Regions from separate parts of the Homo sapiens genome. Here regions 1 and 3 are each reported to be linked to region 2. The links are microRNA targets in miRTarBase. Many come from high-throughput screens and were not tested one by one. Region 2 holds a microRNA gene; each other region holds the end of a gene's coding sequence.

Region 1 (3,000 bases), not on the chromosome of region 2:
AAAAAAGCTTTATGGAAAACTGTGACAGGCCATATACAAATGTGAGGTATTCATCACCCAAAGATGCCATTTGCTGAGCAACTACTAAGCGCTAGGCACGTGCTGGACGCTTTGCCTAAATCAGTATGTCACCACCACAAGAGGCCTTCCCTGACTACCCTGTTAAAGTAAATCCACTCCTCTCCCCACTCGCTAGTTATTCTCTCACGTTCCCTGTTTTTTCCTTCTTACTACTCCTTGTAATTTATGATGTTTTTGTGTGCTTTTTCAATCCTCTTCCACCAGACAGACTATTAGCTTGCCATGAACAGGAGTCATGTGGGTGAGCTGATGGCAGTCTATCCATACTAAGCACAGTGGCTTGTATCCAGTAGTTACCCAAATCCTTGTTAGACAAACACAGCCACGGAGCTGGAGGCCAGTCCAAACTGGCCTGTTTATCTTCCAAGTCAAGTGAGACTCAGCCTTCCCTGCCCACCCCAGAGCAATATACAGCTGAGAGTCTACGCCCCACCCCTCGAGCCTTAACATAGCAGATAAATTAATGATCTCTTTTATAAAACATTGTACAGGGAAAATACATACATAGAGAGCTAGTGCTGGGGCTGGGGTGGGATTTGCTTCTTGAACACAGATAACCAGACCCTACCCCATCAGGGTGGCTGGCCTTGGTAATCTGGGCATCCACCCACCCCTGCACTTTCTTCCCTAAAGTGGCTCACCTGCTGTCCTGACAACCAGCCTCGGCTGGTTACCACAAATAATAAAGGTCCAACATCTTCCCCCCAAAGGGAACTACTTTCTGGCTGGCCCCCACCAGCCTGCTCCTCTGAAATGGGCACTCTCCAGTCCTTCCTTCTTACTGAGGCAGCCCACCTTGACCTGGTCCCAGGAATTTGGCCCACCAGTACCTGAAGATAGGGAAGCAAGACCAAGGAATATTGTTTCCTGATATGTTTGGTGATCACAGCATCTAAACCAGGACTTTTTTGAAAAGTGGAAGGGGGTCTAATTCACTGGAAAACAAGCATAAACCTGGACTGCCCAGGCAAAGGACACGTGGTCACCCTACTGATAGGTCTCCCCTGCTCCTTTTTTTTTTTTTTTTTTTTTTTTTGAGACGAGTCTCGCTCTGTCGCCAGGCTGGAGTGCAATTGTGCAATCTCGGCTCACTGCAACCTCCACCTCCTGGGTTCGAGCGATTCTCCTGCCTCAGCGCCCCGAGTAGCTGGGACTACAGGCGCCCACCACCATGCCCAGGTCATTTTTTTATTTTTAGTAGAGACAGGGTTTCGCCATGTAGGCCAGGATGGTCTTAATCTCTTGACCTCATGATCCACCCGCCTCAGCCTCCCAAAGTGCTAGAATTACAGGTGTGAGCCACCATGCCCAGCCAGGTCTCCCCTGCTCTTAACTGGCCCAATCCTAGCACTCTTTTTTTTTTTTTTTCCGTATTTTTAGTAGAGATGGGGTTTCACCATTTGGGCAGGCTGGTCTCGAACTTCTGACCTCAAGTGATCCACCGGCCTCGGCCTCCCAAAGTGCTGGGATTACAGGTGTGAGCCACCGCGCCCAGCCAACCAATCCTACCACTCTTGACTTTCCCAAACACATTCCCCAACAGCAGCAAGCTTCTTCAGACCTCCATTCCCATCTCTGCTGCCTCCACTCTCCAAGGCTTTCTAGCATCTTAAGGCATCAAGAGTATTGGTGACTTGTAGTATCAGTGTTAGGAAAAATGCCTTCTCCAAATCCCATATGAGACCTGGCCATGTAAGGCCCCTAGTGTCAAGCCTAAGACTCATGGCTCCTTGGGCCCAGTCCCCAAAATCAGGGCTGCACAGGTCTGAATAGCAAAGCCAGGCTTAACCTTGTTTCCCATCCTAAACTTGCCAAGTGTCCTCTCTCTAGGCCTCCCTGTAGCTAAGGGCTAGGGCCAAGGAAAAATGAACCATCAATCTCCCACCTCTGCCCTTGGCCAATGCAAAGGGCTTCCATTCCACATGTGGGAGCTTCACTCCCCACCCCACACATGGTCCTTCTCCACATGTTATACATACACATTCCTGGTCCCACCTCAATGCGGCTAGGAACCCCAGGTGTCCACTCTTGCTTGGGATGGCAGGTGATGGAGGCTAAAGATCTCCCTTCGGTGCCCTGCACACCCACCAGACAGAGCTGGGCCTCAGCCCTTTGCAAGGGCCTGACAGGCAATCACAGCTATCTCGATGGGTTCCAGTTCAGTCAGTGCCCCACCCCTTGCTTTCAGAACCTGCTCAGTAGGCCGTGCTTGTAAAACTGTTTTAAATAACTCTTGCTAAAGCAGATAGTACCAGAGAGCAGAAACTCAGCGCCCAGGTCCTTAATGGTTCCTTCTCTCTACCCTCCTTCCCCTCCCACCCCCCACGTGTAAACAGTCCACAGTCACACCAGCGCTTTGGGAAACAGAAGCCCACTCTCGGTCTTCCTGGGCCACTGCTTCTCATCGTTGGTCTTTGGGGATCAAAGACTCCTCTGTGTCTGAGTCAGGTCGCCCAACACCTGCTGTGTACCTCCCACCCCCCACAAGAAACAAGTGCCCAGATCCTTAAAGACACAGTTTGTTGGAGTAGAGCTAAGAGAACCCCTGGCTCAGGAGGTGGCTTTCCGATGGGCCCCTGAGCAGACATAGGAGATGGGATGGCGGGTCCCAGGCCTCACGGTGAACGTGTTGATGGGGCTTCCATAGCGGGTGGTGGTGTAGGGAGACCTGGGGGAGAGCAAGAGATGTGAGGTGAATATCTGCAGCTGGTTAGCCAACACGTCTCTCATCTCCCCGAGGGACCGAGAGGAAAAGATGCTGCTCATACTTCTGTATTTGCCCCGACAAGCCCTGGGCTTATCGACCCCAGGGAGGGACCGCAGACATCACAAACAGGGCTCCCATTCTGGTCTGGGCCCTGCTGGCCGGAGAACATGCCTAACAGCCTTTCACTCAGAACTCTTTCACTCCTGGCCTGT
Region 2 (3,186 bases):
GCAGCACACACACACCAGAGGACGCACCACACAGAGCACGCACAGCACACACCACACAGCGCACGCACCACACAGAGCACACGCGGCACACACAGCACACACAGCGCACGCACCACGCAGAGCACACACGGCACATGCAGCATACACACCAAACAGCGCACGCACCACACAGAGCACACGCGGCACACGCAGCACACACACCACACAGAGCACCTGGAGCACCCACAGCACACACACCACGCAGAGTACACGCGGCACACACACCACACACAGCGCATGCACAACACAGAGCACACACAGCACATGCACCACACGTAGCGCGCACACTGCATGCAGCACACACACCACACACAGCGCGTGCACCACACAGAGCACCTGCGGCACACACAGCACACACCGCACGCACCACACAGAGCACATGTGGCACACACAGTGCACGCACCACACAGCACCCGCGGCGCACACAGCACACGTGGCATATGGCCTCCATGACCCTGTGTCTTGAGGGCAGGTCCTACTTTTTGCTTTGTTGTGTTGGAGCGGAATTTCTCCCCTGGCTTCTATTGGAGTCCTAGATTATTTAAATCACTTCCTCTGTTAATTGTGCCTGGAATTAACCTGTTAGATTTACTTCCTAGCAGTTAGTTGCTCAGTATGGGTTTCTACACTATTAAAGCAACCTAGCGGTAGTACACAAGGTTTTGTTAGGATAGCTGTGAGATTTTTTTTCTCTAACAATCATCATTATTTCTGTGTCTGCTCCGTTTTTCTTCAGTGTTTTATATGATATTAATAGGGGATGTCTAATTTTGTATCTTTAAAAAAACTTTATCAAATCTGAAGCATTTTTCGTGTTATAGCTTCTCTATAATTTTTCATGGATATTGAATATTTGGTGTTGATATTCTTCACTCAGTTTTGAACATTGAGTTTTCTTCTAATGTTTTGTGCTTATGAAAACCATTTCTGTGTAACGTGTTTAAGTAGCTTATTTATCTGAAAGAACTCTAATAATGAAAAGAAATAAAAAGTTTTTCAGAAGCATGATCATATTCTTCCAGAAGAGTCAGGAACCATGTGTGCCAGGAAAGGGAAACGGGACTGAGCGTCTCGTAGCGAAACGCCTGCTGCAGACTTGACGCGGCTCCCCTCCAGGACGGGCTGGCGGCACACAGACTGTGCACTTACCTCACTGCCGGCCTCATAATAGTAATCAGTGTAAATGGTGTTTCTCTTTCGTTTTGTTATTTCGTGGCGTACGTGTTAAAGTGTGTGAAACTACAAGGCCAGCTAGTCCTTTCATCATTCCCTTTGGTGCAGGTTTTGGAGCAGCACCACAGGGCACACCCCTCGCCACTCTTTATGGGGAATTTTTGCCCAGGCAGGCAAAGGAGTCATCTTGGTCACAAGTCTCCCTTTTCCCCCTCCCCAGCATCTTCGATCCTGTCCCCACCCCTCCAGATGCATCCAGGGGTTGCAAGCCTGCCCCCCAACCAGTCCCCGTGAGGAACAGTGGCCGGGATTGTCCCAGGGCCCCTTCCAGCAGGGGGACCTCCTGACTTGAGAGTCCCCAAAGCCTTCCCAGGGCAGCTAGAATCTGCCTGGAGAGAAGGGATCTTGTCCCCAAGGGTTAGAGGCAGTAAACTAATAGCAAGGACAGCTGCCTTTAGCAATTGTGTGTGTCGCATGGCCGGTCCCTGCATTTTTCTTCAGTTCCAAAGCTGCACTGGCATTTTTATGGTCATCTCTGGAGTCCCTTTGATTCAAGAAATTATACCTCTAGGATGCCAACTAAACGAACAACAAACAGAAACTCCACCTGTTTGCTAGCATAACAGGCGTGAAGGCGGCAGTGTCGCCGGCGTCCTTCCGCGGAAGCCCAGTGTGTGCAGACAGCACGGGGTGGCGCTGCTCTCAGGTGCTCTGGCTGCTTGGGTTCCTGGCATGCTGATTTGTGACTTAAGATTAAAATCACATTGCCAGGGATTACCACGCAACCACGACCTTGGCTGCTCCTCCAGAAACCGTGGTCGCGCTCACTGCAGATTGGAGAACAGGTGCATCTCGTAGCTCTTCTTTGGAAACAAAAGAAGCCACCAGCTGAGGAAGATGCTCACCGGTCACCGTCCCTTTATTTATGCCCAGCGATGACCTCTCTAACAAGGTGCAGAGCTTAGCTGATTGGTGAACAGTGATTGGTTTCCGCTTTGTTCACAGTGGCTAAGTTCTGCACCTGAAGAGAAGGTGAGATGGGGACAGTTAAGTTGGAGCCGCTGGGGCAGAGGCCGTTGCTGACGGGCCGGCCGCTGCTGCACAGTCAGCTTGGGTGCGGAGCGCGATCCTGGAGGATGAGAGACCACTTGACCCCAAGGATGCACTGTCTCCTGCTGGGAATGCTAGCCATGTACTGAGTCCTTAAGTCTGTCCACAGAAACATGCACTAATCGGACATCTGTCTGAAAGGTCAAATGTATTGAAAGTTGCAAAAATTCTTCTTACAAAAAACTAAAACCAAATGCATCACCTAAGTCGTGTGAAATCATGTGGTAGCTCATGGCTGTGAGCGGGGCGGGGCGGGGCTTTCGGAGGAGCTCCTGTTGTTCTGGGCGCGGTGAACTCTCTCTTGTATTTGCAGTCCAGGCCTTCGCGTCTCCTGCGCCAGCAGACGGTGCCCACGGAGCTCCCAGCTGAGGCGCTGCTTCTCCGGGCTGTCGATTGGACCCGCCCTCCGGTGCCTACTGAGCTGATATCAGTTCTCATTTTACACACTGGCTCAGTTCAGCAGGAACAGGAGTCGAGCCCTTGAGCAAAAAGCCTTCGTGTCTGTAAGTGCCCGAGGCTCAGGAGAGCTGGGGCTCCCACTCGCGGCAGACAGGCCCGCGTCCACCCTGCGTCCACCCCGGCCCGGCGGCAGCACGGTGCCAGTCATCTGCATGTGCTCCTGCGGCGTGGGGGTTTGTAGACTTGGAAAACCCTGTTGGCAGAAAGTTAAGAGCTCCCAGGCCTGAAGGCAGGACACAGTGCCAGCAGGGGGCCGTTTGCCCCCATGTGTAAGGGAGGCAGGGCCCAGCTCTCCCACGGCGAGGTGAGCTGAGACTTTCTGAGAACAGTTAGAGTGGGTGCGTGTCTGAAATGGGTACTCCTAGCAGCTATTGTGTACGCAAAGCCTGAGTACAGCCTGCTGGT
Region 3 (3,000 bases), not on the chromosome of region 2:
CTTCTCTACCTAAGTCTCATTACAAGTCTGTCCAGTTGCTTGCTCAGGTGTCTGGTGGCCCCTGGGGTGGGCTATTCAATGAGAACCTGTGTATTTGGTGGCCTGTGTGCATTAGGGTGCAGAAGCTGGATACCTACCAGGAGTACAAGGAGGCTGCGTCCTCTTACCAGGAAGCCTGGAGCACACTCCGGAAGCAGGTGTTTGGATCCTGGATCAGAAACCCACCGGATTATCACCAGTTCAAGTGAGAAGGAAATGTTTGCTCTGGTAGCAGGACCCTTCATCCTGAACTGCCTTCCTCCACGCAGGACAAGTCTTAGCTTTTTTGGTAGTTAAATCAGGGAACATTCTTTCTGAGCTTTGCATCTCTGTTGTGTAATACAGATGGAATCTGGAACTTAGAGCAAGCTATACTTGATTGAAGTAGCTCTCTGCTAAAATGGCATCTCACTAATGACCTCACTATCTGACTTCCATTGTGTTTTATTGCTTCTCTAAAATATGAAATCAGAGTTTGGAACATGATGCTTTGAAAGTACTCTGCAGCAGCTCTGTTTTATGGGTTCCTACATTGATTCAGCAAATATTTATTGAGCTGAAATGATGTTTGACGCTCTGCAAGTTTTACAGCTTTGCCTAGCATAGCGAATATATATTTTGTATTCCCAGCCTTTCTTTCTTCAGGGAGCCATTCTTTTCCCATTCTTCAGTGATCCTGCTCTGTGCCTCAGACTTGGCTGAAGCTAACCTTACTCCCTGGCTCTAGGAATAGCCTGTGAGCCAGCCCTGGACTGCCCTGGACTTGTTCTCAGAGGTATCAGGAAAGGCTTTCTGTTTTGATCTGGAGCTGTAAGGGTCACATAATCATGGGACTGCCGGTGGCCATCTTTTCCTACTACCTAGAGAAAGCCAGCAAAGAATGAAGGCAACAAAGGAAACAGCCAAGAGAATCAAAGATCTAGTAACACTGTTTAGATGTCTCAATTATGTGAGACAGATTCCTGTTGTTATTTTGATTAAGCCTGTTTGTGTTGGTTTTCTGACTTACAATTGAAAGAGTTCTGTCCAAAAAGCCAAAAGGTGGCCAGGCTTGGTGGCTCAGGCCTGTAATCCCAGCACTTTGGGAAGCCCAGGCAGGCAGATCACTTGAGGTCAGGAGTTCAAGACCAGCCTGGCCAACCTGGTGAAACCCTGTCTCTACTAAAAATGCAAAAACTAGCCGGGCATGGTGGCGCACACCTGTAATCCTAGCTACTCGGGAGGCTGAGGCAGGAGAATTGCTTGAACCCAGGAGGCGGAGGTAGTGGTGAGCAAAGATCGTACCGCTGCACTCCAGCCTGGGTGATAGAGCAAGACCCTATCTCAAAAAAAAAAAAAAAAAAAAAAAAAGAAGCCAAAAGGCCCTGCAGCAAATCAGCAATAGACCCAGCAGCCAATCCTGTTTTAACATCGAATGTTTAACACTCAACTTCAGACCTTGAATGATTGACTGAAAATGGAAGCTCCCATGTTGGGGTTACTCAAGGTCCTTATTGGTTCTTCAGCATTTTGTGGCTATAAATATTTTTAAATAACAGTTGTATTGAGATATAATTCACAGACCATAAAATTCACCCAACTAAAGTATACATTTTAAAAGTTTTTAGGCCGGGCACGGTGGCTTACGCCTGTAATTCCAACACTTTGGGAGGCTGAGGCAGGCAGATCACCTGAGGTCAGGAGTTCGAGACCAGTCTGGCCAACATGATGAAACCCCGTCTCTGCTAAAAATACAAAAATTAGCCGGGCATGGTGGTGCACGCCTGTAGTCCCAGCTACTTGGGAGGCTGAGGCAGGAGAATCACTTGAACCTGGGAGGCGGAGGTTGCAGTGAGTCAAGATCATGCCATTGCACTCCAGCCTGGGTGACAGAGTGAGATCCTGTCTCAAAAAAAAAAAAAAAAAATTTTTTTAGTATATCCACAGAGTTGTGCAACCATCAATTTTAGAACATTTTCATCACAAATTTTGTGCCTGTAATAGTTTCCTAGAGCTGTTTCTTAACGAAGTACCACAAGCTGGGTGGCTTAAGACAACAGAAATGTATTCCTGGCCGGGTGCAGTGGCTCACGCCTGTAATCCCAACACTTTAGGAGGCCGAGGTGGGCAGATCACGACGTCAGGAGATCAAGACCATCCTGGCCAACATGGTGAAGCCCCTTTCTACTAAAAATACAAAAATTAGCCAGGTGTATTGGCGCACGCCTATAGTCCCAACTACTCAGGAGGCTGAGGCAGAAGAATCTCTCAAACCCAGGAGGTGGAGGTTGCAGTGAGCCAGGATCGTGCCACTGCACTCTAGCCTGGGTGACAGAGCAAGACTCCATCTCAAAAAATAAGAAGAAAAGACTGTATCCCCTTTCAGTTCTGGAGGCTAGAAGTCCAAACAGGTTGTTGGTGGGGCTTCTGCTTCCTCTAAAAGCTTTAGGGCAGGGGCCCCCAGCCCCAGAGCCACAGACCATTACTTGTCTGTGGCCTGTCAGGAACAAGGTCACACAGCAGGAGATAAGTAACAGGTGAGCACTTGAAGTTTCATCTGTATTTATGGCTGCCCCCCATCGCTCACATTTCTGCCGTAGCTCCTCCTCCTGTCATACCAGCAGTGGCATTAGATTCTCATAGGAGCGTGAATCCTATTGTGAACTGTGCATGCAAGGGATCTAGGTTGCACACTCCTTATGAGAATATAATGCCTGATGATCTGTCAGTGTCTTCCATAACCCCCATATGGGACTGTCTAGTTGCAGGAAAACAAGCTCAGGGCTCCTACTGATTCTACCTTATGGTGAGTTGTATAATTATTTCATCATGTATTACGATGTAATAATAATAGAAATACAGTGCACAGTAAATGTAATTCACTTCAGTCATCCCGAAACTATCCCCCTATCCCCACCCCGGATCTGTGGAAAAATTATCTTCCATGAAACCAGTCCCTGGTGCCAAAAAGGTTGGGGACTG

What was found. Region 2 holds the annotated microRNA hsa-miR-23b-5p (UGGGUUCCUGGCAUGCUGAUUU, at 1,933-1,954, shown strand). A microRNA usually pairs through its seed, bases 2 to 8, with sites in the 3' UTR of a target mRNA and lowers its output. Matches are read on the target gene's strand: a 7mer-m8 pairs with bases 2 to 8, a 7mer-A1 pairs with bases 2 to 7 and ends in A, and an 8mer does both.
Region 1: the mRNA of C6orf132 is a reported target of hsa-miR-23b-5p. Seed matches in the 3' UTR shown: 8mer at 2,230-2,237 and 7mer-A1 at 1,190-1,196.
Region 3: miRTarBase lists ADAT1 as a target of hsa-miR-23b-5p. Seed matches in the 3' UTR shown: 7mer-A1 at 1,284-1,290.

Annotation. Positions count from the first base shown.
Region 1 is chr6:42,101,130-42,104,129 of GRCh38, forward strand. It overlaps C6orf132 (chromosome 6 open reading frame 132), which reads right to left. Exons shown (of 5, transcript NM_001164446.3): 5 at 1-2,749. The coding sequence ends at 2,632. Among named protein-coding and RNA genes, the nearest start is that of C6orf132, 40 kb to the right of the region's middle.
Region 2 is chr9:95,083,295-95,086,480 of GRCh38, forward strand. It overlaps MIR23B (microRNA 23b), which reads left to right and starts at 1,914; the gene lies at 1,914-2,010. The region is part of intron 16 of AOPEP (aminopeptidase O (putative)); the gene reads left to right. MIR27B (microRNA 27b) reads left to right here and starts at 2,151; the gene lies at 2,151-2,247. It overlaps MIR3074 (microRNA 3074), which reads right to left and starts at 2,800; the gene lies at 2,720-2,800. It also overlaps MIR24-1.
Region 3 is chr16:75,597,464-75,600,463 of GRCh38, reverse strand. It overlaps ADAT1 (adenosine deaminase tRNA specific 1), which reads left to right. Exons shown (of 10, transcript NM_001324445.2): 10 at 116-3,000. The coding sequence ends at 248. Among named protein-coding and RNA genes, the nearest start is that of ADAT1, 24 kb to the left of the region's middle.